Regions from separate parts of the Homo sapiens genome. Here region 2 is linked to region 1. The links come from fine-mapping of genetic effects on gene expression. A gene starts in region 1. The other region holds a variant in brackets. All regions are shown on one strand. Distances are between the middles of the regions.

Region 1 (2,818 bases):
TGGAAGAATAAAGAATAACTTTTAGATTTCCAGACTACCACTATTTTTCCCTAAAACTTTTCTTTCAGTGTCCTTGCTTTGCCATTAAAAGTTCTCTAATGTTAAATGGGTTGAATAACCATCATTTATATCATTTCAGTATTTATAAATCTGTCCCAGATAGGTACTGGAGCACAGAGGCCAATTCATATTTCATATAATTCAACATATTCCTTTTTATTTCTCTAACAGAAAAATAGTAACTCCCAGGCTGTAATCTCCTTTTTAAAATGGGCCATTAATGATTTACAAGGGTGGTTTTTGTTTTTTGTTTTATATTTTTTTTAAAAGGAAGAGAAAACCTTTCATGAGTAGTCTTCCAGGCTGGCTTTTTCCAAGAACTAATATGAAAAAGGTATAAAATATGGTGAATAAGAAAAGCCCAAGCCCAACCTCTCCTCTTGGCATTCTGGTCCCTTTAAAATCTGTTCTTTACTTGCTTTTTCTATCACTTCTTTCCCACCACCCCCTATCCTTCCTTCTTCAGCTCAAGAGAATTCTTCTCCAAATCCTTTCTGGACCAATGTGTGAGTCATTCTCTTCTGCTTCTCCATTTATGAGACCGCTACTCCTCCTCCAAGGTCCAAATCAAACACTGTCCTTGGCTGAAACATCCTCTAATCCACCCAGGGGTTGATAATCACTCTAACCTCACCTAACAAATATAATACAACACTTATTTCATTCTGGTTTTTAAGTGAAATCAGGCTTATTAGGAAAGTAATAAAGAATGGCCACTCCATAGGCAGAGCAGCCTCTGGTTGAATTTTAAGTGGTCATTCTTTACACATCTGCATCCCTAAATGAGTTGCAAATTGCAAACTCCCTGAGGAAGGAAGCCCTGTATTGTTCCATGGTTATATCCTTTCACAATGCATAGAATAGCTTAAAGGAAGCTCTCAATTTTACTAAAAATAGCTGATATTTATTGATCACATACTACTTATCAGTCTTAGTTAAGCATTTAAAGCACTATTTCAATTAATTTTCACAAGAGCCATATGTATAAATATCATCTTTCACACTTTATAGAGGAGGAAATGAGATCACAGCATTTAAGGAGCTTTCCCGTCATGCAGTTAGAGACACTAGGATTTGAACCTGAGTATTTGGATTCCACAGCCTAAACCCCTACTCTCTACTTTCCACTTGATAGTTTAAATGAATTAATTTAATTTAAAGAAATTCAAGAATAGCATAGATTATTCATTAAAAATGAAGTTGTAGAATGGGCGGAAGAAGTAGTTCTGTTACCGGTAGAGGGTCTTGACTCCAAGTTGGCCAGGTTCTTGGCATTTTGAACAAAGAATTGGACAAAACACACAGCAAAGCAAGGAAAGAATGATACAACAAAAGCAGAGACTTATTGAAAGTGAAAGTACACTCCACAGTGTGGGAGCCGGCAGCGGCAGCAGCTCAAGGGCCTGGATATAGAATCTTCTCAGGTCCAAATACCCCCTAGAGATTTCCCATTGGCCACTTTGTGTTCACCTCATGTAAATGAAGCTGTGGCCCTCAGAGACTAAGGTGAAGTTACAAAGTTGAACGTCTATGCAAACAAAGACTTTGCTGGCGATCAGTCTGATTGGTTGCTATCTGCAACCAATCAGAGGCTGACGTTACAAAGTTACACTCCTATGCAAAAAGCAACCAATCAGAAGTACTTTCAATTTCCCATCTGCCATGCAGAAAACGTGGGGGTTTGCAAAGGGAGTAGCCCCTGGTCCTTTTGTTACTTAGATGTGCAAAGTTAGGGTTTTCCATTCAATTTAGTTCTAGGAAGTCAGTGTGAAATGGCCTTAGGTTCCCTGACTCCAGACCCTATTCTCCTGCCTCTCTTCCATTTGCTTATGTATTATTTTTGTTGTCTAAAACATAAATGAGGAGTCTCTGGAATTTCATCTTTCATAAGCCAACACCTCGATTTTCTTAAAACAGATTTTTTTTCTTATACATTAGTCAAAGTAAATTCATCTTCCCTTATATCATGACACCACCAGGAGTATTAGCAAAGCATAATAGCAATTGTCTTACTCAGATGTACAATCATAGAACATAAAAGATAAAACATTCTTCCTTTTAAATTCCTTATAACTCTCAAGTGATAAATAAGGGAGTAAATTTGGATCAAAAGAAGGGTTCAAGCTATATCTATACAGCCAAATCACTAAGTCATACGTCCAACAGGCTAATTATTATGTATTTTTTAAATATTTTACCATTCATATTGGCCAAATCAATGTAATTGATTCATAAATGCCAGCAATCCCTGTGTTGGGAATGATTTTTCCATTTATCTACTGATGCGCAAAGTCCTAGAACAAGAGATAAATTAAGAAACATTCAACTTTCTTGTCTCTCCAATCCCTTCTCAACATTGTTGCTGGCTTTCTGAGACACAACCTTAAGTGAAAAGAAGTGAACTTCGACCCATACCTTTCACCTTATCCATAAATTAACTCAAAATGGATCACAGACCTAAATGAAAAACCTAAACTATACACAGATTTCCAAAAGAAAATTTAGAAGAAAATATTTACAGCCTTGCTTAGGTGAAGATTTTAGAAAATATACCCAGAGGTTGTAGTGAGCCTGGGTGACAGAGTGAGACTCCATCTCAAAAAACAAACAAAAAAGAAAATATACCAAAAGCTGGACCACAAAAGAAAAAAGTATAAACTGGACTTATCAACATGAAAAGCTTCTACAAGACACTGTTGAGAGAATAAAAAGATAAACCACAGACTGGAAGGAAATATTTGTAAAATACATATAAGGG
Region 2 (2,818 bases), 24 kb before region 1:
GTTCTACATCTACACCGTCCAATATGGTTGCCACCCGCCATATGTGGATGGCACAAATCTAACCCCAACCATATCCCCAGCCTTTTTTGACCATTCTCTTCATTACTAACAGGAGTATCATTCCTTGTCTACTAAAGAAAATGTATGTCGACTTAAAAAGCACAGAATAGACTACGTAAAACAGACTAGAAAACCAAGGCAGTGGGCACCTTTGCACACAAATTGAAATCTACATTTCCAGATGATGATTAGAGGTGATAATTACAAATGGACACACATTATCATAAAGCTTGAGCTTAACAAAGTTCTAGACTAGATTATGAAGCTGATCCTGACACCTACTAAGGAATGCTCTCCAGAAGTCAGCATTGGCTCACTAAGAAAATGTCCCAGGACCTCTCTAGGGACCAATTTACAATCACTCAGTAAATGTTCTCTGCTAATGTTGAGAGTACAGTTTCTCCCCAACCATGAACACCTATCCCAGAAACAGCCTGGAGTACAGGGAGTCATAAGAGAGGAAGGTGACCTGCACCTGGGGAACTACTACTGGTAGAACAACATAAAAATGGGTTAGGAATAATTGAGTCACAAACACCAGATGGAAGAACTTCCTTTCTCATCACTGCATACATGGGACACCAGAGAGAGAAAGGAGAAAACAGAACTAGAGATTTCAAATGCTTTATTGAAAGAGAGAAAAACATCATTTTCCTCCTTTCCCAGTGTTTGTTTTTGACCCAGCAGTGGCCACTGCAGCACTGCATCCAGGAGGCTCACCATGCTAGATACTGGATCTAAGGAGTGCTTTTTAGCAGACAGAGAGGTAAAAGAGAAAACAAGGGTTAGAATTTGAGATCTCCTACCAATGAGCCACACAGGAAAAAGCAAGGTTTTCTTTTCTAATTCTTTAAGAAAACACATATTTTTCCTGTCTCTGGGGACCCATGGCTGTCTGGGGATGGTGTGTGTGTTGCCTCATCTGCCTTTCTATGTGGTGTCTCCCTGTGCAAAGCTCTGGTGATGGCTCGCTTGCTGGGGTTAACGCAATGTCTCCACCACTGACCCCAGGCAGACACAGCTTCATGAGTCAGTAAAGGCTAGCCTTCAGAGGCTATTAAGTCCCAGAGAG[G/T]GGAAGCCGAGAAACATGTCTCCTCTGCTTGATGGCAGTGTCATGTGCAGGATGTTTTCCTGGCTCCAAAGTTAACCATGCAGCTAATAAGCTGGATTCCAGTGAAAGGGAAGTCTGCGAGTCACTGATAGAAAACACTCTCTTCGTTGGTCACAGTGTTACACCCTTGAGAGAAAAGAAAGCAAATATTCCTATAATCTGCCTGCTGTAAAAAAGGCAATGATTAAATTTTTAGTGGTGTTTGGCGGCCAGTTCCTTTGCGAAATTTTCTCTTACCATAGTTAAAATCACGGCTACCATTTATTGAGTCCACCACTATGGACTAGGAACCAGGATAAGCACTTCAGACACACATTCTCCCATGATCCTCAAACCATCTTATGTTCTGGATACCATTTAAGTGACGAGCAAACAGACTCAGTCAAGGTTCCAGCTGTGACCTTACACACACTGGCAAATGATGGAGCCAGGTCAGTCTGATCCCAGAACCTCCTAATCATGATGATACTATCAGATAAACAATGTCCAAGTAAATGCAACAATCACCCACCCCAATCTGAGCAGTAATATTTGTGCTGAATGTTCTGTAATAAAATCTAATAAAAATTATCCTGCATGGTCTTCCACTTCTGCATACCACATTTAAAAAAAAAAAAAAAAAAGCTACTGTCTGACTTCCAGGTTTGATTCTCAACTCTTATGGAGTTCCTCTCCCCAGCACCCAAATTAATGATATTATTTGTATTAGTCACTAGGCTAATCTAGTGCTCTATAGGAAGTCATAATTGCTCTCAGCTGTTAAACAAATCTCTAGGCTTATATCAAGATCATTGCCAATTAATCCTTTAAAAGTCATTAAAAATAGGAAAAGCTCAGCCAGGTGCCATGGCTCACGTCTCTAATCCCAGCACTTTGGGAGGCCAAGGCAGGTGGATCATGAGGTCAGGAGATCCAGACCATCCCGGCTAACACGGTGAAATCCCGTCTCTACTAAAAATGCAAAAAATTAGCTGGGCATGGTGGCAGGCACCTGTAGTCCCAGCTACTCAGGAGGCTGAGGCAGGAGAATGACGCGAACCCAGGAGGCAGAGCTTGCAGTGAGATCGCACCACTGCACTCCAGCCTGAGTGACAGAGTGAGACTCTGTCTCAAAAAAAAAAAAAAAAAAAAAGGGGGAAAGTTCCAAAAGACCAAAGACAGGAAAATATTGAAACTGTGATAATGAAATTTCAGATCAATTTTGTGGTATCTAGTGGACAAGATGGAGAAATAACATATTAAATAACTGACATTAAATGCTTGACACTATGATAAACCTTCACTATAATTTATCTTAGCCCTCACTTCAAGGTAGATATTCCTCCACTTTACAGATGATGATAGTGAGGTTCAGAGAAGTTATTATACATAACTTTTCCAATGTTGCCCTACTAAGTGAAGAGCTTCAAAATTGGTGCTATGGACTGAACATTTGTGTCTCCCCAAAATTTGCATTTTGAAGCCTGAATCTCCAATGTTAGGGTCTTTGGAGATGAGGCCTTCAGGAAACAATTAGGCCATGAGGGTTGAGGTGTCATGATGAAATTAGTGCCCATATACACATACAAAGAGACATGAGAGAGCTTCCTCTCTTTCTGCTCTCAACCATGTGAGGGTAGAATAAGAAAATGGCCAACTGCAAGCCAG

Evidence for each region. PIP is the estimated chance that this variant, and not a neighbour inherited with it, causes the effect. A credible set is the group of variants that fine-mapping cannot tell apart.
Region 2: its variant is the best candidate, but not a certain one, in a credible set for the expression of LINC02450 in tibial nerve (GTEx, PIP 0.70).

Annotation. Positions count from the first base shown.
Region 1 is chr12:42,690,989-42,693,806 of GRCh38, reverse strand. LINC02450 (long intergenic non-protein coding RNA 2450) reads right to left here and starts at 1,591. Exons shown (of 4, transcript NR_135028.1): 1 at 1,531-1,591.
Region 2 is chr12:42,714,970-42,717,787 of GRCh38, reverse strand. LINC02450 (long intergenic non-protein coding RNA 2450) reads right to left here. Exons shown (of 4, transcript NR_135028.1): 4 at 669-1,297. Among named protein-coding and RNA genes, the nearest start is that of LINC02450, 24 kb to the right of the region's middle. The variant G/T (reference allele first, on the strand shown) is at 1,133.